Regions from separate parts of the Homo sapiens genome. Here regions 1, 3 and 4 are each linked to region 2. Evidence: fine-mapped expression QTL. A gene starts in region 2. Each other region holds a variant in brackets. All regions are shown on one strand. Distances are from middle to middle. Region 1 overlaps LOC102724446 (a long non-coding RNA gene). Region 2 holds the start of OR2W3 (olfactory receptor family 2 subfamily W member 3). Region 3 overlaps OR14A2 (olfactory receptor family 14 subfamily A member 2). Region 4 has its middle 3.9 kb from the start of OR11L1.

What was found. PIP is the estimated chance that this variant, and not a neighbour inherited with it, causes the effect. A credible set is the group of variants that fine-mapping cannot tell apart.
Region 1: its variant is the best candidate, but not a certain one, in a credible set for the expression of OR2W3 in breast (GTEx, PIP 0.66).
Region 3: its variant is the best candidate, but not a certain one, in a credible set for the expression of OR2W3 in testis (GTEx, PIP 0.58).
Region 4: its variant is the best candidate, but not a certain one, in a credible set for the expression of OR2W3 in sun-exposed skin (GTEx, PIP 0.71).

Annotation. Positions count from the first base shown.
Region 1 is chr1:247,623,691-247,630,006 of GRCh38, forward strand. All of the region lies in intron 2 of LOC102724446 (a long non-coding RNA gene), which reads right to left. Among named protein-coding and RNA genes, the nearest start is that of OR14L1, 9.7 kb to the left of the region's middle. The variant A/G (reference allele first, on the strand shown) is at 3,014.
Region 2 is chr1:247,892,464-247,898,779 of GRCh38, forward strand. OR2W3 (olfactory receptor family 2 subfamily W member 3) reads left to right here and starts at 3,124. Exons shown (of 1, transcript NM_001001957.2): 1 at 3,124-4,068. The coding sequence starts at 3,124. The coding sequence ends at 4,068.
Region 3 is chr1:247,732,404-247,738,719 of GRCh38, forward strand. It overlaps OR14A2 (olfactory receptor family 14 subfamily A member 2), which reads right to left. Exons shown (of 5, transcript NM_001355292.3): 2 at 3,081-3,153; 3 at 1,783-2,022; 4 at 880-980. It overlaps OR14K1 (olfactory receptor family 14 subfamily K member 1), which reads left to right and starts at 6,212. Exons shown (of 1, transcript NM_001004732.2): 1 at 6,212-6,316. The coding sequence starts at 6,212. The variant G/A (reference allele first, on the strand shown) is at 3,651.
Region 4 is chr1:247,842,624-247,848,939 of GRCh38, forward strand. No RefSeq gene overlaps it. Among named protein-coding and RNA genes, the nearest start is that of OR11L1, 3.9 kb to the left of the region's middle. The variant C/T (reference allele first, on the strand shown) is at 3,058.

The sequences.
Region 1 (6,316 bases), 270 kb before region 2:
AAAACCATTAAACTTGGATGAATGCATCTTCTCCATATCTGTCAATTTCCCCACCACAGTTAGTGTGTGTGTGTTTGTGTGTGCGTACATGTGTGTATCTGTGTATACACGTGTGCATGTGTGTTTGTGTGTTCATAAGAACTAGAAGACATCTTTAAAATTGGAATATATAAAAGTTATAAAGGCCCTCATTTGAGCATTTCCTGAGCTTTTCACTTATCCCTTAGTAGAAATACCATCTCCTTTAACAAGAGTTATTGATTCTAAGAAAAAAAGAAATTTCGTTTTGTCTACTGCTGATTTATCTTGCAGATATAAAAACTGGCAAAAGTAATTCATTTATTTGTATATCATTGGTTTAATAGAAGGATAGAAGGAAGTGAACTGGCTAGTATCTTTCATCCAAAAATCTTGACACTGGAAAACAATTTCCTAAATTTGTCTTGAATTTTCTTCCTCAGATGAAAAAACCATAACTGTATTAGCTTTACAACTTATAATTACTTTGTAAATATATTTGATTATTTTCTGTCGAAGTAGCACGTGTGTGCGTGCTTGGGTGTGTGTGTGTGTGCACTATGACTCAGAGTCAAAGTGAATGTATTTATACTAAATGGATATGTTCATTCATAGATATTTATTGATTGATAACTGTGCACTAAGCTAATCAGGGAGAAAGTTACCGTAGCAGAGAGAAGAAACAATTTTTTCCACTGATGAAATAATAAATAAACCAATTCAAATAATGCATAATTTATTGTCTGGAATTGTAGTTAAATGAAGAAGCATAGAGAAAGGTAAGAGGATAGAGAATGAAGTAGTATTGGATTCCAGTTTTTTAAATTTTTGATTTAATTTTTATTTTTATGGGTATATAGTAGGTGTATATATATGAGATACATGAGATATCTTGATAAAGGCATGCAATAAATAGTAATCACATCAGGGTAAATGGGGTATCCATGACCTGAAGCATTTATCTTTTGTGTTACAAACAATCCAGTTATAATATGTTAGTAGTTTTAAAATGTATGATTAAATTATTTTTGACTACAGTCATTCTGTTGTGTTAACAAACACTAAGTCCTAATAATTATTTCTATTTTTGTACCCATCAACCATCACTATTTCCTCCCCACTTCCCCCAACTACCCTTACCAGACCATGCTTCTACTCTCTAGCTCCAAGAGTTTGATTATTTTAATTTTTAGCTTCCACAAATAAATGAGAACATGTGAAGTTTGTCTTTTTGTGCTTGGCTCATTTTGCTTAAAATGATGAACTCCAGTTTCATCCATGTTGTTGCAAATGACAGGATTTCATTCTTCTTATGGTTGACTAGAACCCCATTGTGTATAGTTACCAAATTTTCTTTATCCATTCATCTGTTGTTGGACACTTGTGTTGCTTCCATTGTGTAACTATTGTGAGCAGAGCTGTAGCAAACATTGTAGTGCAGGCACCTTTTCAATACACTAATTTCCTTTCTTTTGTGTACGTACCTAGGAGTGGGATTGCAGGATTGTATGGTAACTCTATTTTTAATTTTTTGAGGAACTGTCAAACTGTTGTCCATAGTGATTCTACTAATTTACATTCTAACCCACAGTGTACAAGGGTTCTCTTTGCTTCACATCCTTGCCAGCATTTGTTATAGCCTGACTGACTTTTGGATAAAAACCATTTTATCTGGGGTGAGGTGATATCTCATTGTAGTTTTGATTTGTATTTCTCTGACAATCAGTGATATTGAGGACCTTTTCATATACCTGTTTGCCATTTTTATGTCTTCTTTTGAGAAATGCCTATTCAGATCTTTTGCCCATGTTTAAATCAGATTATTAGATTTGTCCCTAGAGAGTTATTTGTGCTCTTTATATATTCTGTCAGATGGGTAGTTTTCAAATATTTTCTCTCAGTCTATGGGTTTTGTCTTCACTTTGTTGATTGTTTCCTTTGCTGTGCCAGAGATTTTTAACTTGATGTGATCATTTGTCCATTTTTGCTTTGGTTGCCTGTGCTTTTGAGGTATTAGTCAATAAATCTTCAACCAGTCCAATGTCTGAGAGCATTCTCCAATGTTTTCTTTTAGTATTTTCATAGTTTGAGGTCTTACATTTAAGTCTTTAATCCATTTTGATTTGAGTTTTCTATATGGTGAGAGAAAGGGGTCTAGTTTTATTCTTCTGCATACGAATATCCAGTTTTCCCAGCACCACTTATTGAAAATGGTGTTCTTTCCCTAATGTATGATCTTGGCACCTTTGTCAAAATTGAGTTCACTGTAGATGTATAGATTTATCTCTGGGTTCTCTATTCTGTTCCACTGATCTATGTGTCTGTTTTTATACCAGAACCATGCCGTTTTGATTACTAAAGCTCTGTAGTATAACTTAAAGTCAAATAATGTGATTCCTCCAGTTTTGTTCTTTTTACTTAATAAATCTTTGCTATTCTGGGTCTTTTGTGGTTCCACATAGATTTTAGGACTTTTTTTCCTATTTCTGTGAAAAATGTCATTGGTATTTTGATAAGGATTGAATTGAATCTGTATATTACTTTAGATAGAGTGGACATTTTAACAATATTTATTCTCCTAATCCATGAACGTGAAACATCTTTCCAGTATTTTGTGTCTTCTCCAATTTATTGCATCAGCGTTTTATAGTTTTCATTGTAGAAATCATTCACTTCTGTGGTTAATTCCTTGGTATTTTATTTTATTTGTAGTTATTGTCTGGTCTGGTGTTGATGAAATTCGCCAGCTCTTGTTTTTCTGGAAAGTCTTCAATTCTTCTTCATATTTAACTAATATTTTCCCTGGATATGGTATTCCAGAATAAAAGTATTTTTCCTTCTGCACTGTAAACATGTCATACCATTCTCCTGGTCTGTAAGCTTTCTGTTGAAAAGTCAGTTCCTAGATGTATTTGAGCTTCATGGTATGTTATTTGTTTCTTGTCTCTTGCTGCTTTTAGGATACTTTATTTTGACCTTCGGAAGTTTATTAAAT[A/G]CCTTGAGGTAGTCTTATTTGGGCTAAATCTGATTGGTGTTCTATAACCTTGTACTTGAATAATGATATAGGTTTGGGAAATTCTATGTTATTACACCTTTGAATAAACTTTCTACTCCTATCTCTTTCTCTACCACCTCTTTAAAGCCAATAACTTTTAGAGTAGCCCATTTGAGGCTACTTTCTAGATCCTGTAGGCATGCTTCTTTGTTTCTTATAATTTTTCCTTTTGTCCCCGATATGGTTAGGCTTTGCATCCCCACCAAAATCTCATCTTGAATTGTAATCCCCACATGTCAAGGGAGAGACAAGGTGGAGGTAATTGAATCATGGGGGCAGATTCCCCCATGCTGTTCTCATGATAGTGAGTGAGTTCTCATGAGATCTGATGGTTTTATAAAGGGCTCTTCCCCCTTTGCTTGACTCTTCTCCTTCCTGCCATCTTTGAAGAAGGTGCCTTGCTTCCCCTTCCTCCATGAGGCCTCCCCAGCTATGTTGAACTGTGAGTCAATTAAACCTATTTTCTTTATAAATTACTGAGTCTCAGGCAGCTCTTTATAGCAGTATGAAAATGGAGTAAACTATCTCCTCTGTTTTCAAATAGCCTGTCTTCAAGCTCACTAATTCTTTTTCCTGCTTAATCAATGTGCTATTGGAAAACTCTGATGCATTCGTCAGTAGGTCAATTGCATTTTTCAACTCCAGAATTTCTGCTTGTTTTTATTTCAATCTCTTTGTTAAATTTATTTGACAGAATTCTGAATTCCTTCTCTGTGTTATTCTCAATTTTTTTGAGTTTTTTTCAACACAGCTATTTTGAATTCTCTGTCTGAAAGGTGACATATCTATGTTTCTCCAGAATTGATCTCTGGTGCCTTATTTAGTTCATTTGCTGAGGTAATGTTTTCCTGGATGATGTTGATGCTTGTGGATGGATGTTCATTTGTGTCTGGGCATTAAAGAGTTAGTTATTTTTTGTACTGCTCACTGTCTGAGCTTATTTGCACCCATCCTTTTTGGGAAGGCTTTCCAGGTATTAAAAAAGACTTGGGTGTTGTGATCTAAGCTGTGTTGGCTTTAGGGGGCACCCAAGGCCAGTAATCCTGTGGTTCTTGTAGACTCATAGAGATACCACCTTGATGGTCTTAAGTGATATCTGGAATAAATCACTGGATTACCAGAAAGAGACTCATGTTTTCTTCGCTTACTTTCTCTCAAACAAATGAAGTCTCTCTCTCTCTCTACTCTGAACCAGCTGGAGCTAGGAATGGGGTGACACAAGCACCCCTGTGGCCACAAGCATCAGAGTGCTCTCGATCAGACCTGAAACCAGCACAGGACTGAGCCTGGCTCGTGGCCTGCTATAAACACTACCTGGCTACTTCCAATGTTTTCTCAAGGCCTTGGGGCTCTATAACCAGCAGGTGAGAAAGCCAGCCAGGCCTGTGTCTTTCCCCTCAGGGCACAGACTTCCCACAGGCCCCTGCCAAGTCCAGAGGTGCCATTCAGTAGCCAGGGACTAGAGTAAAATCCTTAGAAGTCTACCTGGTGTTCTATTGTACTGTGGCTTTGCTGGCATTCAAACCACGAGATGCAGTTCTATCCCCTCTTCCCCCCATTTTCCACAGGCAGAGGAGCCTCAATCTGTGACCACTACCACCACGGCCCACAGGGAGTATTCCAGGATACTGAAAGTATTTCCTTAAGGCCAAAGGGCTCTTTAGTTACCTTGCGGTAAATGCTGCCTAGGATAGGACTTACTTTTCAGGGCAGTGGACTCTCGTTTGGCCCAGGATAGATCCAGAAATGCCATCGAAGAGCCAAAGCCTGGACTCAAAGACCCCAAGGACCTGCTTGGTTCTCTAGCCCCCTGTGGCTAAACCAGTGACAAAGTCCCCTTTACTTTTTCCTCTGCTTTTCTCAAGTAGAAAGGGTTTTTCTCCATAGCCCCTATAGCTGGGATGGTGCTGAGTTTTACCTGAAGGTAGCCAGTCTCAGAGTCTCACTGAAGGGCCACAAGATACTACCTGGGTATTTCTCCTAGTTATTCAGGGTCCAAGGGCTCTTTAGTTAGCAAGTGATGAATCCTGCCAGGACTGGGTAATTTCCTTCAAGGCCTCAGGTTTCCTTCTGGCCTAGGGTGTGTCTAGAATTGTCATTTTGGAACTAGGGCCTGGAAAGGGGGCCTCACGGCTTTGACTGATGGCCTATCTTACTGTGACTGAGGTGGTATCCAAGATGTAAGACAGAGTTCTCTTTACTCTCTTCAATCCTCAAGCAGAAGGAAGCAGTCTGTTTTGGAGCCATGAGCTGTGCAGCCTAAGGTTGCGGGGGTGATGTAAGCACTCCCTTGGCCACCCCAGATGATGTCTCAGTATGTCATATGCCCTCCAAGTTCCCTGGTTCTGAGCCCAGTTCAGCACTAGGACCCACCTAGGAGTTGCAGTCTTTGCAGTCTATACTGCCTTACAAGTTTTTATAGGATCCCAGAGCACTTTAGCCTACCATAGCGACATTTGCCAGAACTCAAGTTCCAACAGCTGGCATGTGTTATTCCCTTCTAGCTAGGGCTGATTTATCTGCTTCCTTTGTGGAAAGGTGTTAGCTGAGTTCAGTCCAGTTTTGCTTTCTGCTGTGGCAGGACAGCACTGAGTTCAATACAACGTCTCACAGTTGCTGTGCTATCCTTCTTACAGCACACAGATTCTCTCTTCACACCACATGGCCACTGCCAAGGGACTGGAGAGAGGTAATATCAAGGATTTAAGACTTTCTTTCCTACCTTCTTCAGTGTCTCTTTTATTAATGTGAGGTTAAAACCAGGTATTGTGAGTGCTCACTTGATTTTGGTTCTTATAAAGGTGGTTTGTTTTGTGTAGATGTGAAACTGGTAGAGGCAGGGGAGAAAATTAGTAGAGCCCTTTATTTGGCCATCTTATTCTTCCCCCTCAGTTTCTAGTTTAGATGGCATGCATGGAACTGCTTTTTGGTAATGTATTTGAGCAGAGACTATAACACATATAAGTAGAGATTGTCCTCCCCCCGCAGAAAAAACTTACATTTTATCCCATTGTGGATTTTTATGACTAAAATAATCTTAGTATAGATCAGTATACTTTTAAAAACACTGGTAACTATTCATTGTAGTCAATACCTAGGGAGATATAACAAACAGAGATGATCTGTGTCCTCAGCAAAGCTTAAAATTTACACTGTGAGTCCACATAAACACTTTCAATTAATTTGAACTATGCATTTATTTATTCATCACTTGCATGTATCGAATAAATGCTCTATATATTC
Region 2 (6,316 bases):
GTTCCTTTCCATGTTTAGCACTTCCTTCAGGAGCTCTTTTGGGGCAGGCCTGGTGGTGACAAAATCTCTCAGCGTTTGCTTGTCTGTAAAGTATTTTATTTCTCCTTCACTTATGAAGCTTAGTTTGGCTGGATATGAAATTCTGGGTTGAAAATTCTTTTCTTTAAGAATGTTGAATATTGGCCCCCACTCTCTTCTGGCTTGTAGGGTTTCTGCCAAGAGATCCGCTGTTAGTCTGATGGGCTTCCCTTTGAGGGTAACCCGACCTTTCTCTCTGGCTGCCCTTAACATTTTTTCCTTCATTTCAACTTTGGTGAATCTGACAATTATGTGTCTTGGAGTTGCTCTTCTCAAGGAGTATCTTTGTGGCGTTCTCTGTATTTCCTGAATCTGAACGTTGGCCTGCCTTGCTATATTGGGGAAGTTCTCCTGGATAATATCCTGCAGACTGTTTTCCAACTTGATTCCATTCTCCGCATCACTTTCAGGTACACCAATCAGACGTAGATTTGGTCTTTTCACATAGTCCCATATTTCTTGGAGGCTTTGCTCATTTCTTTTTATTCTTTTTTCTCTAAACTTCCCTTCTCGCTTCATTTCATTTATTTCATCTTCCATTGCTGATACCCTTTCTTCCAGTTGATCGCATCGGCACCTGAGGCTTCTGCATTCTTCATGTAGTTCTCGAGCCTTGGTTTTCAGCTCCTTCAGCTCCTTTAAGCACTTCTCTGTATTGGTTATTCTAGTTATACATTCTTCTAAATTTTTTTCAAAGTTTTCAACTTCTTTGCCTTTGGTTTGAATGTCCTCCCGTAGCTCAGAGTAATTTGATCGTCTGAAGCCTTCTTCTCTCAGCTCGTCAAAATCAATCTCCATCCAGCTTTGTTCTGTTGCTGGTGAGGAACTGCGTTCCTTTGGAGGAGGAGAGGCGCTCTGCGTTTTAGAGTTTCCAGTTTTTCTGTTCTGTTTTTTCCCCATCTTTGTGGTTTTATCTACTTTTGGTCTTTGATGATGGTGATGTACAGATGGGTTTTTGGTGTGGATGTCCTTTCTGTTTGTTAGTTTTCCTTCTAACAGACAGGACCCTCAGCTGCAGGTCTGTTGGAATACCCTGCCGTGTGAGGTGTCAGTGTGCCCCTGCTGGGGGGTGCCTCCCAGTTAGGCTGCTCGGGGGTCAGGGGTCAGGGACCCACTTGAGGAGGCAGTCTGCCCGTTCTCAGATCTCCAGCTGCATGCTGGGAGAACCACTGCTCTCTTCAAAGCTGTCAGACAGGGACATTTAAGTCTGCAGAGGTTACTGCTGTCTTTTTGTTTGTCTGTGCCCTGCCCCCAGAGGTGGAGCCTACAGAGGCAGGCAGGCCTCCTTGAGCTGTGGTGGGCTCCACCCAGTTCGAGCTTCCAGGCTGCTTTGTTTACCTAAGCAAGCCTGGGCAATGGCGGGCGCCCCTCCCCCAGCCTCGCTGCTGCCTTGCAGTTTGATCTCAGACTGCTGTGCTAGCAATCAGCGAGATTGCATGGGCGTAGGACCCTCCGAGCCAGGTGTGGGATATAGTCTCGTGGTGCGCCGTTTTTTAAGCCGGTCTGAAAAGCGCAATATTCGGGTGGGAGTGACCTGATTTTCCAGGTGCGTCCGTCACCCCTTTCTTTGACTGGGAAAGGGAACTCCCTGACCCCTTGCGCTTCCCAGGTGAGGCAATGCCTCGCCCTGCTTCGGCTTGTGCACGGTGCGCGCACCCACTGGCCTGCGCCCACTGTCTGGCACTCCCTAGTGAGATGAACCCGGTACCTCAGATGGAAATGCAGAAATCACCTGTCTTCTGCGTCGCTCACGCTGGGAGCTGTAGACCGGAGCTGTTCCTATTCGGCCATCTTCGCATGTATTTATTTTTATTTGTCTTAGTTTGGGAGTACTGTTTTGTTACCTCCACGTATGGATTTATATTAATTTGCGAGTACTGCTTTTTACCTGCACATACATGCTTATATCTATTTATATTAATTTGGGAGTACTGCTTTTTACCTGCACATACATACTTATATCTATTTATATTAATTTGGGAGTACTGCTTTTTACCTGCACATACATACTTATATCTATTTATATTAATTTGGGAGTACTGCTTTTTACCTGCACATACATGCTTATATCTATTTATATTAATTTGGGGGTACTGCTTTTTAGCTGCATGTATTGCACAGTGGCGAAGTCTTGGCTTTTAATGCATCCATCACCCAAACACCAGGATGGACCAAGTCTCCCTATATCCATCTGTAAGACTTGTGGTTTGTCTTATCAAATATGCTTTGCTTTGAATGTGATGTGGTATTAGAGTTGGAACGTGATAGAGGTTTCTGTACATATGCGTGAATTTTGCATTACAGTTGTAATATCTGTTACAAAGTTTTTTCAATCTCTTTTATCCTCTCAAGCAGTATATAGTACTTTGGAAGAAAAACCCATACACTCTATTTGTTCAATACCAGGCCCATTTAAAAGACAGAGAGAAAAAAAGAGATTTTATGTGTATTTTGCCTGTCTCTTACATTATTTATCTACTGAGGTAATTTTAAAATTAAATTAAATTAAATTCTGAGGTAATTTAAAAATTACCTCAGTAATGGTAACCCAATGAATGAGGTGTGTCTTTGAGACCAGTAATAGATAAAGTACTCTGTGTGTAAAGAGTATTTCCTAAATACTATTGATGGATTATTTTGAGGCTCCATTTTGAGTCCTTGAGGTTTTTGGCAGGAGCCTAGGGACTGGAGTCTCTAGAAAAATTCGTGGTTTGGCCACAGCAGGATTTGCCTTCACTTCACTGGATTTGGAGGCAGTGCTACTGGTGGTTTAGATTGCACACTCTCAGCTACATTGCCGGGGTTCAGAATCAGCTCTGTGTCTTCCTACATATCACAGTTTGCTCAACACACATGTGTTTCAGTTTCCTTTTCTATAAGTTGGGAGCTAATAATAATAGTGCAACTCCATATAACTGTTGGGGTTGAATGAATAAAATAAATATAAAAAGCATAGAAGAATGCTTAGCTTCTAGTAAGTTCTCCCTTAATATCAGCTGTTATTATTATTATTAGGATTGATATTTCTGTTCAGCAGCAGTAGAGATGGATGGAACCAATGGCAGCACCCAAACCCATTTCATCCTACTGGGATTCTCTGACCGACCCCATCTGGAGAGGATCCTCTTTGTGGTCATCCTGATCGCGTACCTCCTGACCCTCGTAGGCAACACCACCATCATCCTGGTGTCCCGGCTGGACCCCCACCTCCACACCCCCATGTACTTCTTCCTCGCCCACCTTTCCTTCCTGGACCTCAGTTTCACCACCAGCTCCATCCCCCAGCTGCTCTACAACCTTAATGGATGTGACAAGACCATCAGCTACATGGGCTGTGCCATCCAGCTCTTCCTGTTCCTGGGTCTGGGTGGTGTGGAGTGCCTGCTTCTGGCTGTCATGGCCTATGACCGGTGTGTGGCTATCTGCAAGCCCCTGCACTACATGGTGATCATGAACCCCAGGCTCTGCCGGGGCTTGGTGTCAGTGACCTGGGGCTGTGGGGTGGCCAACTCCTTGGCCATGTCTCCTGTGACCCTGCGCTTACCCCGCTGTGGGCACCACGAGGTGGACCACTTCCTGCGTGAGATGCCCGCCCTGATCCGGATGGCCTGCGTCAGCACTGTGGCCATCGAAGGCACCGTCTTTGTCCTGGCGGTGGGTGTTGTGCTGTCCCCCTTGGTGTTTATCCTGCTCTCTTACAGCTACATTGTGAGGGCTGTGTTACAAATTCGGTCAGCATCAGGAAGGCAGAAGGCCTTCGGCACCTGCGGCTCCCATCTCACTGTGGTCTCCCTTTTCTATGGAAACATCATCTACATGTACATGCAGCCAGGAGCCAGTTCTTCCCAGGACCAGGGCATGTTCCTCATGCTCTTCTACAACATTGTCACCCCCCTCCTCAATCCTCTCATCTACACCCTCAGAAACAGAGAGGTGAAGGGGGCACTGGGAAGGTTGCTTCTGGGGAAGAGAGAGCTAGGAAAGGAGTAAAGGCATCTCCACCTGACTTCACTTCCATCCAGGGCCACTGGCAGCATCTGGAACGGCTGAATTCCAGCTGATATTAGCCCACGACTCCCAACTTGCCTTTTTCTGGACTTTTGTGAGGCTGTTTCAGTTCTGACATTATGTGTTTTTGTTGTTGCTCTTAAAATTGAGACGGGGTCTCACTCTGTCACCTAGGGTAGAGTGCAGTGGTGCCACCATAGCTCCTTCGACTATTGGGCTTAAGCGATCCTCCCCCACCTCAGCCTTCCAAGTAACTGGGACTACAGGTGTGCATCACTGGCAGTGGGAATTGTGGCTTGTGGCTTTTCTGTCTTCTATGGAGACGGGGTCTTGCTGTGTTGACCAGGCTGGTCCCAAACTCCTGGCCTCATGTGATCCCCCTGCCATGGCCTCCTAAAAGTTCTGGGATTACAAGTGTGAGTCACTGCGACTGGCCAACATTATGTGATTTATGTGTGAACTATATAACACAAATCATCCCCAAAACCCATCATGATCTGTAAAGCAGCTGCAAAGAATGAAGTGAGACAAACAGTTGTAAAGATGAGTTTCCACCTACTTATACCAGAGTGCTAAGAGGAAATAACTCTTCTCAATCAGAGCTTTGCTTTGTTTGTTGTTGTTTGCTTTAAAGTCTAACACACCTGACATGTTTCAGTCAGAATGACCCCAAATGCATCACTGTTCTCCACGTGGTCCAAGTGCCTCTCTGTTTAGGGCCATCAAATCATGGAATGCAGCACAGTTTTATATTTTCTATATTCCCAATTCCTACCCAAACCTTTTCATGAAATCGTAGAGTTTGTTTTACCCTTTATCTGGTGTAAGATTCTGCATAAACCAAGAAGTGAACCTGTAAGTTATGATGCATGGGTTGTTTAAATCTTAAAGCATCATTCTTTCTCAGGCATGTTTTTTTCATTATTAGTAAGAAGAACCTGACATTGGTTTAGTCCCTTCTGTGTACCAGACGCTCCTAAGTCATGCAACCTCAGTATTTGTATGAGGTCAGCATGATTATCATTATTCCCATTTTATCTCCCTGGTCCTTGAGATCTGAAGGTTAAATCTTTTGCTCGAGGGGAACTGAACCAGGGTTTTTTCCAAGTTCTGTCAGACTCCCGATTCATATGGTTTCTATTGCATCATGAAATTTCAAAGAGCAAAAATCCTTAAGCATTTGGCACACAATGTCAAAGACCCTTTGGGGCTAAGGGGCATGACTGGCTACTGTTCCTTACACATTGCAGTCCTCAATGTGTCCCACTAACGTGCCCTCCAGTTATCTGAGGTCTTGTTCCAATGCAATTCCAATTCAGCTGGTGATAAGAGGGGTCTGAGTTTCTGCGACTCTGCAAACCTCCCAGGTGATGTCCCTACTTTGGGGACTCGGACTACATTTTAAGAACCCAGGAAGTATATCACCCCCTGCTCTTGTTCCGGGCATTTGGAGGGTGGACACATTCTGGAAAAAGTTGGGAGAGTGTTCATAGACCAAGGGCGAACACAAGGTGAGAGGGAGTGGTGTGAAAGGCCAGCTGAGGGGTGGTCCTCATTCCTCTGCCGTTGCTCCTGTGCTCGGCTCCCTCCTCCTCCACAAGTGTATTTCTGCGCTCTTTTGTATCCTCCTCACCTCCACACCTCACATCTAAAGTCACCAGCCCCAGGGCATTGTGTAAGTGTAAACAAACCAGAGCCCCAGAGAGGGGGATTCCTGTGCTTCCAGAGCACCCCCTCTGACTATTCAAGGATGCTGTTTGTAAGAAGTACTGATGTGGATGTGTAGTAGGAAGAGCCGCAGACAAAACTCCTCAGACACCGAGTTAGAGAAGGAAGGGGTTTATTCGACCAGGGGCATCGGCAAGACTCCTGTCTCAAGAGCCGAGCTCCCCAAGTGAGCAATTCCCGTCCCTTTTAAGGGCTCACAACTCTAAGGGGGTGCGCGTGAGAGGGTCGTGATCGATTGAGCAAGTAGGGGGTACGTGACTGGGGGCTGGTAATTAGATCGGAACAAAACAGGACAGGGATTTTCACAGTGCTTTTCTATACAATGTCTGTAATCTATAGATAACATAACCGATTATGTCAGGGGTCAATCTTTAACTACCAGGCCCAGGGTGTGGTGCTGGGCTGTCTGCTTGTGGATTTGATATTTGCCTTTTAGTTTTTACTTTTTTTTTCTTTGGAGGCAGAAATTGGGCATAAGACAATATGAGGGGTGGTCTACTCC
Region 3 (6,316 bases), 160 kb before region 2:
AAACCTTTGGCCACAGTCCGCCAGCACTTATTCAGGTGTTTTTTATATTATGTTTAGGTTTCACATGTGCTTTCTGTTGGAGAAAAGGAGGGGTCTGAGGAGCTCTTTCCTAGTCCATCTTATTTGGAAGTAAAACCTCTCTTTTAGCAAAACCGAGCATGGCCTTACCAAATGACCTAGTGATTTGGTCCCTTGGTACTTACCCAACTGATTTGAAAAGTTATGTGCAAACAAATCCTGCATATAAGTGCTTATAGAAGTTTTATTTATAATCACCAAAACTGAAAGAAACTAAGTAGTCCTTCAGTAGGTGAGTGGATAAAGTATACTTCAACAATGCAGTAGAATACTAATCATCAGTAAAAAGGCATGAGATATCCACACAACAACATGGATGAATCTTGGATGCATTTTGCTAAGTGAAGAAGCAAGTCTGAAAGTCTGGCTTCTTTCAGACTCAGCACGCCCTTCCCCCAGGCAGGATATGTTTGTAGTAAAGTCTTTTTGCCTGGAGTGGTCCTTTGATCTGGGAAGGCTCTGGGCATGCTATGGTTACTTTTCCACCCTTTTGCCAATCCAGGAGAGATTCTTTCTTGGCTTTTTATTTGAAAGCCTTAGTGGGATTCCTAGATATAAAACCAATGAAAGTACGAGGTCCCCCTGAGACTGCGGCCCTCAGGAGTTTCTTACTCTTACACCATCCTGAGAGCATTCGGAAATTCATCAAACTTGTGACCCTTCCAGTTTATTATTTCTGTGGCTTTCGTTCCTAGTGAGCAGATCTTAGCTGTGACTCTCTATATTCACCTGTCTCTCTAGATTTAAGGATTAATTTCCATAATAGTGGACTAAAGACGAAAAGTGAATAGATACACTTACCTCATTATCAGAAAACTGATTTGAAAGATTTGAAGAAATTTGTGACAAAAATCCTCAGTAACCTGGTATTGAAGGTAACCTCTTAAACTGATAAAAGGCATCTGAAAAGAAACAAAAACCAAAGAAATGCATTGGACTATGGAACAATTCCTATTTTACAAACCTTCTGAAACTTAAGGAAAGACATTTCCTGTTTATCTGTTCAATCATGCTATCTGCTCATTCTACTCCCTCACTCCCTGTCCTTTCTAGCCTTCCTCACTCTCCCTATATAACAAAAGCCCTTTCTGCCTGACCATTTAGAGGACTACAGGTATCATGCTTGGGGAAATTCTTTCTATTGCAATACTCTTTTTGAATAAGTTATCTGCTAACTCAAAACCAAGAAGAACAAAAACAAAAGCCAACAAAATGAACAAAAGACAAAACCCTGCAACTAATATCATAGTTAATGCTGAAAGCCAGAATGTTTATTCTGTAGATCTGGATCAAAAAGGATTATTCTCTCACCACCTCTATTTAGCCCCAAGCAGTGAAAAAAGGTAAGAAAAAGAAAAAGAAAATTCATTAAAAATGAAGAAGTGCAACTTTTCCTCACAAAATGAGTATCTACGTAGACATTTTGAGAAATCTACAAAACAGCTACCAGAGCTACTATGCTAGTTAAGAAGGTTGCATGATAAAAATAAGGCTGTTACATGGTATTAAAAAACAAATGGAAATGGAAAGCAAAAACAATATCATTTATATTATGTTACAGGTTGAACTGTGTCTTTCCAAAATTCATCTTTTGAAGTTCTAACCTCCAAGACCTCTGAATCTGACTGTATTTGGAGAAAAATCCTTTAAAGAGCTTATTAAGATAAAGTGAGGCCATTAGGATGGTCCCCAATCTAAACTTACTGATGCCTTATTAGAACAGGGATTAGGGCACGCAGAGACCCTGGGGGCACGCATGCACAGAGACGACCAGAGGAAGAGGCAGCAAGACAGTGTCCATCTGCAGCCCGAGGAGAAGATTCAGAGGAAACCAAGGCAGCTGACGTCTTGATCTCAGATGTGCAGCCTCCAGAATCGTGAGAAACACCCACTCACAGACGACGTGTTTAAGCTACCCCATCTGTAGTATTTTGTCATGGCAGCCTAAACAAACAAATACAGATTTGGATCAAACTCATGAAGTATCTACTGATTAATTTAACAAAATGAGCTTGGGGGTTGTGTACTGATATGTACTGAAATAACAAAATGTTTCTGAGAATCTTTTAAAGACTTAAAAATGGAGGGATATACCATCTTTATTGCTCAAAATACTCAATGTTGCTAAAAATACAGTGTTTTCTACATTGATCTAGATTCAGTCCCTGTCAAAATCCCTAGGAATACCTTAAAAATCAATAAGCTAATTTTTAAAATGTAGATAATGAAGTCCTATGGGGCTGGATGTCATATGTCTCTTACGAAATGTCATAAAATGATGAAGAAGAAGGTCTAATCTAAACGTCAACTTCGCAATGAATGTGGGGTGTCCACAAGAGGTTGCTGGATGACAGAAACAAGCTCTAGGCAGCATAGAGGCTGTCCCCACCAGGATATCTAGAAAGTCAGTCATTCAAAGCAAACTAGCGAGCAAATAACTGGAAATTACGTGAATATAATAAGAATATTACAAGATCAAAATCTGAAAATAAACTGTACCTCATCCCAACCCTGGAGAAGACCCCACTGAGTTTCATTTTGTTGCTGCTTCCAAGGGAAGCCTGAACTCGTAGGATGCTCATGAGGATGCCCCTGGCATCACTTAAGAATGAAACAGATGTTGAAAATTCGGTGCTCTTGGGAACTTTCTATACAGGCATCTCTCGTCATTTGTGAGAATCTGAAGGGACGTCATCTTCCCTGGAGGCTTAAATCCAGAGTGAGAGGAGAAAAGAAAGATCCAAGGGAAGTGTGATGGCTCAAGGACTTAAACAAATCCATGTTTCAGACCCCAAAGTCAGAGCACTGCATCTCCCAGTGTCCTTCTCAGTTGAAACTGGACTGAGATTATTACACTCAATTTAAAGAGTCTGTGTACACACACCAAAATTTAAGGTGTCACATGCAAATGAATGTCTAGGATCCATTAGTCACATATTATGGATGCAATAAATAAAGGTTTATTCTCATGAGACCCAGAAAGATCTCCTTTTCTGACTCACTGGAGGAAAAGGTGTGGCATCACGTCTCAGATCTGAGGTGAGAGTGAAGAGCTGGGTCTCCAGGGCTTAAAACCTATGAAATAAAATATAAGTACAAGTAAAAGTGTGACCTCCCAGGAGAGTCCCATATAGTCAATGAAAGTCTGTTTAAAGCTGCTTTAAAAGCCTTGCTCCTTCTTGAAGAAGGAAGTGCCTAATACAGAGGACATCAAGCAGAGCTTGGAGACTGCACAAAAGAAATAAATACTGATACGTAGAGGACAGAAATGGTCAATCAAAATCGTCGTGAGTTTAACCCGGGGAGTTGGGGTCTTGAAGCAGGAATCGGTAAGCATATAGGAAACTGTTTGCAGCATTCACTAGATCTCCCTAAGAATTGAAAACTAGAGCTCTCTTTGAACAAAAACTGTGAAAAGAAGTCCTAAATTACTTAGACATTTCATTTTTATTTTCTTCTCTTCTGAAATTATTTTGAAATAAATATAGAACTGTTTGGGAAAGCATTCTCACCGGCCTTTGTTATGAATGTTGCTTCTATTGATCTTACTCGAGAATGGAAACATTTTCCGG[G/A]GCTGAAGATTCCATATAGCCTTTGTTATGAATGTTGCTTCTGTTGATCTTACTCGAGAATGGAAACATTTTCCGGAGCTGAAGACTCCATATAGGCCTCCCCTCCCCTCCCCTCCCCTCTCCTCTCCTCTCCTCTTCCCCTTTGCTCTCTCATTCTCTCCATTCCTCATATTCTTGACAAAAGTGATAAAATTTGTTGTTAATATGATATAGAAATGGTAAAGAAACATATAAACCTGAACTTACCCTATCTTCCCAGCCTTCTTAGATACCCCTTGATTTTAGGATTATTTTGTGTATTATATGTATTTTCCCAGTTTTAGATTGATTGAGACTCAGATTGCATATTTTTATTTAATCATGTGGAATTTCCCTGGACCAAATAAGTATATAAATATAATGAGGCAAAGCTTTATTGTTATTAATGTTATCTGTAAAGAAAAGCACACAGACTTTTAAACTAATGCTATCACTCATTTCATATGTAAGCATGTGAAATAAGGTGAAATATAAATCAAAAATGAGACTGAAGGGATAAAAATCTAGCATTGGAGTCAAACATCACTGGGGTGGAAGGAACTCAAAAGGACACTCACTCACTCACTGAGCTACCCTGGCTGTCTCTAAAACACACAGGCTAATGCAACAGAAACAAGGATGGATGGTTTGCTAGTTTGGAGGTAGCTCTTGGGGTATTTTGACACTGCTCCAGGTTTTATTCCCCAGCAGGTCAAACAAAGGAGGCTTTACTTTTGGGGCTTCCATGAATTAGCTCATGTTATGAGTCAGGCTCTCCATTATTGCTCTAAAGCTAGGGCCAGTGCTTTCTCCAACAAGAAAGCCCAAAGTTTGCAACATAGTAAGAAATTTCCATTTGCTCATGAGTCTTTTCAACTTAAAACATTATTTTATTTAATTTTTGTAGACATAGAGGGGTCTCATCTTGTTGTCCAGGCTTGTCTCGAATTCCTGGCCTTAAGAGATCCTCTGGCCTCAGCCTCCTAAAATGCTGTGATTACCGGCATGAGCCACCATGCCTGGTCCCTTTTCAACTTTAAATCACTTGTTAATTTAGTTCTCAGAAAATCACTTGTACTGAAATGGACATATTCTATGAAGGTTAGAGGTACGACTGCTCATCCTGGAAAAGCTCTGTTTATTCTTGCTCATCCTCTCGGCTGTGTGTGTGTGCATATGTGTGTATAGAGAAGGAGGAGAATGTATGTTGTAATGGTCTGCTACATTCTCTTTCAGTTGAAAAACTGCTGAACAACAAAGTGAGACTCTCTTGTGTCTACAAAAATAAAATATTTTTTAAGTTGAAAAGACTCAAGAGCAAATGGAAATCTCATGCTATGTTGCAAACTTTGGGTGTTCTTGTTGGAAAAAGCACTGGCAGTAGCTTTAGAGCAATAATGGAGAGCCTGACTTATAGCTCAACATGAGCAAGTTCATGGCTGCCCCAAACTTAAAGCCTCCTCTGTTTGACCTGCTGGGGAGAATAAAACCTAGAGCAGTGTCTACATACCCTAAGAGCTACTTCCAAACTAGCAAACCGTCCATCCTGTTTTCTGTTCTGTGTGTTTTAGAGATGGCCTGGAAACCAAAGGGGAAAGTGAAAAAATTGCCATTGAAGTGATACTAAAGTAAAATCAAGAGAGGTTCTAAAGACAAGATGATCTGAGGGAAAAACATGGCCAAAACTCTCCCTCACGTTGGGGTGTGCGAGGGATCTCAGATGACAATCTCTGAATGTCTATCACATAAGAGGACACACTGCATCTCTGGTTAGATGCAGTAGATATCCCTGTCTGTCGCTTCCTGTGTTTAATTAAATCCTTCCTAGAATATTATGTTAATCATCTGGCTAAGTCTCAGGTTTTTGTTCTTTTCATGAAAAATGACACTATATATTTGAAAACTGATTTGTGAAAATAACGAGTACTTTTTAATTTTTGTGCTATGCTATGTATATGGACTAAAGAAAGAAAAAAATGATACTATAATCACATTTTCACCAAAGGAGTAAACTTTAATGCAAAAATGGGAGAATAATCTTAACATCCTTCAGTGAGAAGGGGATAGTAAATTAGAGTATCACCTGAGGATAATGACTATTTTAAATATTGCAGTAAGTAGCAAGCAGAAATTTCATTCACAACATTTAATACACACAAAACTACATTAACCGGGATATTTATACATGAAAATGTATGCCCTATTGCAGTTTTATATATAATTGCATAGCCAACCCTGTAATTCCCAAAGGAAATAAAATCACTCAAAAGTCATTTCAAGTAATGAGGGAGAGAAGTGAAGTTCTTTGCTTCTTTCACAATAAATCTTAGTCCAGGACTACTAAGTGTTAGACTGATATACCCACAGTTGTTTTACACCTGAGTCCATGAGAAATATAAATTGCTTGATATTTTTAAACTTTTTGTCTAGGCCTTGATGCTACACATACCTTCATTCAACAAATGAAGAAACAAATGATACTTTTTAATATTAGTATGACACTTATTTTCCTTTACTCCATAGGGCGCTTATAATTTTGAACTATGACCAATCAGACACAGATGATGGAATTCTTGCTTGTGAGATTTACTGAGAATTGGGTGCTCCTGAGGCTGCATGCTTTGCTCTTCTCACTGATCTACCTCACG
Region 4 (6,316 bases), 50 kb before region 2:
GCGGAGATTGCAGTGAGCCAAGATCGCACCACTGCATTCCAGCCTGGGTGACAGGGCGAGACTCCGTCTCAAAAAAAAAAAAAAAATCATGCACATGTGGAAGCAAATGCCTTTCCCTTCTCATCTGTGGGCTTTGTCTGAAAAAGAAGCCAGACACAGCACATCTCCTATGCCATCTTGGGAAAGTGTATATATTCCACCCTCAAACAATATTTATTAGTCCCTGCTGTGTGTGTGTGTTTGTGTGTGTGTGTTTGTGTGTGTGTGTGTGTGTGTGAAGGCCTGTGCTGAACTAATCTGCCTCACTCCACTGGTGTCCTTTCTTGCCTCATCCGATACCATACTCATGCTCAGCCACTATAATTACACCCTCGTGTACACCTTTTATTCTTTCATTTAATTCATTGTCTATAGTTCTGGATAAAGTAAACATCCACCTGCCATACAGGAGCTTCTGTGAAGTTGAGGGAGTGAGACAAGCAAGAATAGAACCTCTTTAAAATGTACAACCAACAAACTCAGTGTGCCCTTACTGCTGGAGAGCAATCATTCTGTATTTCCCTTATAAACCAAAAATAAAATTCTAAACCCCACAACTGACTGAGCGGACTCCTCCTTTCAGCCAAGGGGATTTCAAAGAAACCTAAAAATTCTGGTTCAGATCATGATGGGAAGAGGGGGTTGGACAAACCTCATTACACTCTCCTTTCTTCAGAATTCAGGCATAACTGAGCAGCAATAACATCAAAAAAGAGATTTTAAGGCTGACGAAACAGACTCTGTAGAAATAAGCTACCAAATTCTAACCTGACTCTAGTATAGCATCATGACAGACAGCCGACCCTGAAGGAAATGGAAATATTTTACCACAAAATATATTTATTTGTCATATTTAAAATGGCCCTGCAAAGCTGTCTCTTGTGGGGGAAATCTACATTCTGCGGAGAATCCCTTTCCCTCTCCAGGCCTTTGTCTGATCCTCAAGAGATTAGCTGAAAGTCTAGCACCTTTTAAAGGTCTCAATAGAACATTTTTCCCATCTGCTGCTTCTCAGGCTGGCAACATATGAGACTTCATCTACATCATAAGAACCTTGGTTTCCCCAACCCCCCTATCTTAACCCAGATTCTCCTTTCTATTGATTCCAGGTCTTCAGACAATAACTTAATTCTTTCAACCAGTTGCCAATCAAAAAGTCTTTGCATCCACGTATGACTGTAACCTTCCCCCATTCTTGGAGCTGTCCTGCCTTTCCAGACCAAACCAACGCATAGCTCACACGTACTGATTGATGTCTTATGTCTCCCTAAAATGGATAAAGTCAAGCTGTAACACAACCACCTTAAGCACATATTCTCAGGACCTCCTGGGACTGTCACAGATCATGGTCTTTAAATTTGGCTCAGAATAAACCTCTTCAAATATTTGTTACAGACTTTGGTTTTTATCAATACCCGTATCTATTCACTCTTCCAATCTCCTAAGTGACTATTTCACTTATGTTGCTCTCTTTTCGAACGTCTAGCACATCCCTGTTGCTCTGTACCCTCAGTAAGAGACTTATTTCACTGGAAGATCCTGAAATCCTTCAGTGGAAGTATCCACAAGCTCAGGCCACTAAATTCTGCCATCGACTACCTTTTGTTCCTGTGCACCTACTCCCTACACTTCCTCTGAGTAAACTATCTGTGTCCAAGTCTAAGGCAAATCCTTCCACCTGGGCATTAGGCGCCATAACCTCCTACACACTGGAAAGGTATTGCAGGTGACAGAGGCAAAACTATTCCTATCCAAAAGACTCAGGAGTGTTGAGCTGAAGAAGACGAACACACAGGGGACCTGCCCCTTCCTCTGCTTTCCTGAAGGCAGGACCAAGATTTACAAAGACAAAGGTCTTCCTGCCTCCCCTCTGCCTCTTCCCACCTGAAGACAGTCTCCTTTATAATGCTTGCTTCTCAGCTCAGACAGCAACGCCAGGGATCTCGGAACAGACTACTCTTCCTGTAAATTTTCCTTCCCAAATGTCTTGCTTTTGGGAAGCCTGAAGATGCCGTTTTTTTTGTTTTGTCACCGTAGAGGATGTATGGCTCCTTGCTAAGATACTATTTCAGCAAGGCCTCAAAGCCACTGCTTCCAAACCGTCGCAACAATCTAGGTGAGCCGTTTTCCTGAGAGAGCTGCTTTCTTTCTTGTGGATGGGCATGACATGCATAAATAAACATGCTTGTTTTTCTCTTGGTGATCTGCGTTTTGCTCATGAAAATCTGTCCTAGCAGTGAATTTAATGAAAGTCGAGAAGAGAAATTCTTTTTTTCTCTCCTTCACTGGGTATTCTCAGCTTCATGCCTGAATCACCCATGGTGCCCTTTCTGCCAAAGCATTTCCTCAGCATGTCAATGGGCTGGATTTCTCTCCCCCACTTTAAAAAGACAAAACAGAGAAGAATGTCTAGAGGCTTTGCTGTTCTCTGAATACTACCTGCACTTTTCTGCTCCCTTTTCCCGATGCTTTCCCTTCTGGAGGGCACTGTCCCTCCCTGCTGCTCCTCGTCCTCTGCCTTCTTGCTCGCTGGAATGCACTATGATCAGGATGTTTTTCTTGCCACTGCCCCAGACGGCGCAGCTGTGCTGGCATTGCCCTCCAACCACCCATCGCATTCCCGATCCTCTTCATCTGTGGCATCATCGCACCATTGATCCCTCCCTCTTCCTGGATCCACTGGTCACTTAATATCCACAACTACATACTCTCTTAGATCAGCGACAGCCCTGGTTTTTCACACTTGTACAGGGCTTCGTGTCTTTCAATCTACCTTCATTTCCTTCACAGTTTCAGGCAGTCTCTTGACTTGAATGCTGTCACTTTGCTCTCAGCCCTCAAATTTATGTCTCAAGCTTGAACAGAAGCGTCCTGTAAAAACTGCCCTATGTGAAATGCTCACTCATGACTAGTCAGCATTTGCAATTTAACGAGACCTAACTTAGCTGACCAGCACTCCTGACTACCCCAGCCTCCCTCAGTGCAGCCTTCCCATCTCCATCCTCCCACTTGCTCAGA[C/T]CAGAAACTCTGAATTTGACTCTTGTTCCTTTCAAACCCAATGTCCAATTTTTCAGCAAAATTGACTGGCTCCACCTGAAAATGTATTCAGAACTGATCTGATCACCATTTACGACCACCATCGCTTGCTGCCTGGAAAAGGCACCACTATCTCTTATCTAGATTGTTGCAATAGTTTCGTTAAAGCACCTCCACGTCCAGCCTGCCCCACTCAAGAAAGCAGTCAAAGAGAATATTTTAAAACACGGGAGAGTTTTTGCAGTGAACACAGATGTACTGTGAATTGTTCCTGAAAAGGAAGAAAACATTGTGACCAGACAATCCACATATTCACCTCTGCAGTTTCCGCTTTGTCAGAATCGACGTTCTGTTGACTTGCTGTTTCTGTTCTTCATGTCTGTTGCAATTCACTATTTCTGCTCTGTTCTACGTTCTCCTCTCATTCTTGGCCAAGTCACTGGGAATATTATTTTCATGTAGCCAGGAAATAATTATATCAAGAGAAAATAATATCTTAACATTATTGCACATGCTAAAAAGAGTATAATACTGAATGTGTCATATATATTGAACTATATAGTACTTGATTTCTTCAATAAAGCTTAAGAAACAAAAACAAAAAACCAACCAACCAACAAACAAAAACAAAGCCTTGACAGGTTACCCAGCCCTGCTTGTTCTCTCCTCCCACAGCCTCACCAAACTCTTAGTCTACTTTCTTCTTGGTCCGTTCTGCACCCAGTGCTTCCGCCTCCTTTGTATTCTTCAAGTTACCTGAAACGTGCCTCGTTTTCTCCTTAGCATGTTTAGTTCCCTGCAACGTTGTCATTGAACAGCTTTGTATGGCTCATTTCTCATGTCCTTCCAGTCTGCTCAGATAACACCTTCTTCTTTAGGCCTGATCTAACTACTCTTCTGCCATTCTCAGAATTTATAAGAGTCAAGATAAAAGTGTTAAGTATATGTTGGTTTGAAGGCAAAATATTCCAGCAGTTCTGGCTTGAAAACACTGAACGAAAACTAAGAGATGTGAGAAAATTGTTATTTGATCCACATAGATTGATTTATTCACATAGATTATTTATTCAGCCGGGCACGGTGGCTCACGCCTGTAACCCCAGCACTTTGGGAGGCCGAGGCGGGTGGATCACTTGAGGTCAGGAATTCAAGACAAGCTTGGTCAAAATGGTAAAACCCTGTCTCTACTAAAAATACCAAATTTAGCCAGGCGTGGTAGGGGGCACCTGTAGTCCTAGCTACTCAGGAGGCTGAGGCAGAAGAATCACTTGAACACAGGAGGCGGAGGCTGCAATGAGCCGAGATCGCGTCACTGCACTCCAGCCTGGGTGATAGAGCGAGACTCCGTTTCAAATAATAATAATAATAATAATAATAATAATAATAATAATAATAAATACTCTTGGTAAAACAACAATGCTTTCTTGGAAAATGGTTCCTTTTTGCTTTGGCTTTCACTTAGTATTTTATAAGAATATGACCATGGTATTCAATTTAAAATGAACATCCACAGAAAAATAAGTTAAACATGGAGCGCAATGAGGGTCTCCTTGATGAGACCACAGTGAAAACAAAACAGCCCTTTATTACAATAGGCTAAGTTTACAGGACACTGGGCTCAGATCCTAGTTTTCTAAAGTACCTCCCACAATTCATATCCAAATGCACAAGGAAAATGAACTGTTGTATAATCATCGCTTCATGGTTAAATCCTTTCAGTAATGAAGAGCTCACCACCTTTTGAAATACTGATTGTTTTTTTTTTTAAGAGACAAGGTCTTGCTTCGTTGCCCTGGCTGGAGTGCAGTGGCACAATCATAGCTCACTGTAATCTCAAACTTATAGGCTCAAGTGTCCTCCTGCCAGGGTGGCTAGGACCACAGGTGTGTGCCACCATGACTGGTTAATTATATATCCACATATTTTTTGTAGAGGTAGAGGTCATGCTATATTGCCCAGGCTGGCCCTTAACTCCTGGCTCCAGTGATCCTCCTGCCTTGGCCTCCCAAAGTGCTAGGATTACAGGTGCTCTGGGCCTGATTACTTAAATACTGACTATTTCCAAGTGCTAGAATTACTTTAATTACATTGAGCTGGAAAAAAAAAATGCTTCCCAAAAGACTGGGTTGGCTTTAGCTCTAGGGCAACAAGGGTAACCTCAGATTTAACTTTGTAGCTTTCTTTGAAATAAAAATAATTACGAATGTTGTTGTTGGGGGCAGTGGCTCACGCCTGTAATCTCAGCCTTTTGGGAGGCCGAAGAGGGTGAATCACCTGAGGTCAGGAGTTTGAGACCATCATGGCCAACATGGTAAAACCCCGTCTCTACTAAAAACACAAAAATTAGCCAGACATGGTGGCGGATGCCTGTAATCCTAGCTCCCTGGGAGGCTGAGGCAGGAGAATCACTTGAACCCAGGAGGCAGAGGTTGCAGTGAGCCGAGATCATGCCATTGCACTCTAGCCTGGGCAACAGAGCAAAACTCTGTCTCAAAAAAAAAAAAAGAAAAAAAAGAATGTTGTTGTTCTTAGATGCAATCTTGCCCAGAGTAAACTAAATGGCCTTTTGACTTCTCGAGAACTCTTGATTAATTGTCTGTTATTACAGTTTTATAATTTAGGCAAGATCATTTACTGTTTCCATAAAGATAGAGAATCTGCAAAGGCTAAAATTGCCTTGATAATGATGAATAATTTATTGAAGTCGATGTATTTTTAGAATCTAACATACACAATCAAAACAAGGACATTTATGTTATTTGACAGTAAAATACACACCACGTTGATTTTCTTCTTCTCTGCATGAACTCCCCCTACCTGTCTGTTTTCCCGGCGTCCAGAGCGCTAAATGGCCCCTGCTCTAGGCAATGTCTACCCGTGCCCTCCTGTAACCCAAACTCTTACTGTGCTTTCATTGTGAGATCTGAAATTTGCCATCTTCTGCCGGTGTCTGACACTGGGTAAAGCCAACTTCTCCTTTCAATAGCCTTGGGTTTCTTGGGGACCTGGCCCTTCTGAGAAACTTGTTCCCCAGATATTATTCTATAATTTGACAATCAAGTCAGAAAACAATCAAATCAACCTTTTGAGATTCAACCCTGCCCACTGGGGCTTAGATGATGATAAAATATTTGAGACACATGGACACATGCAATTCTTCCATTCTTTTTGAAAAGGATTTATTTTTTTAATTTAACTTAAGATAGGTCCCAAAAATGTTGAACTAAAATCTGAATCAAAC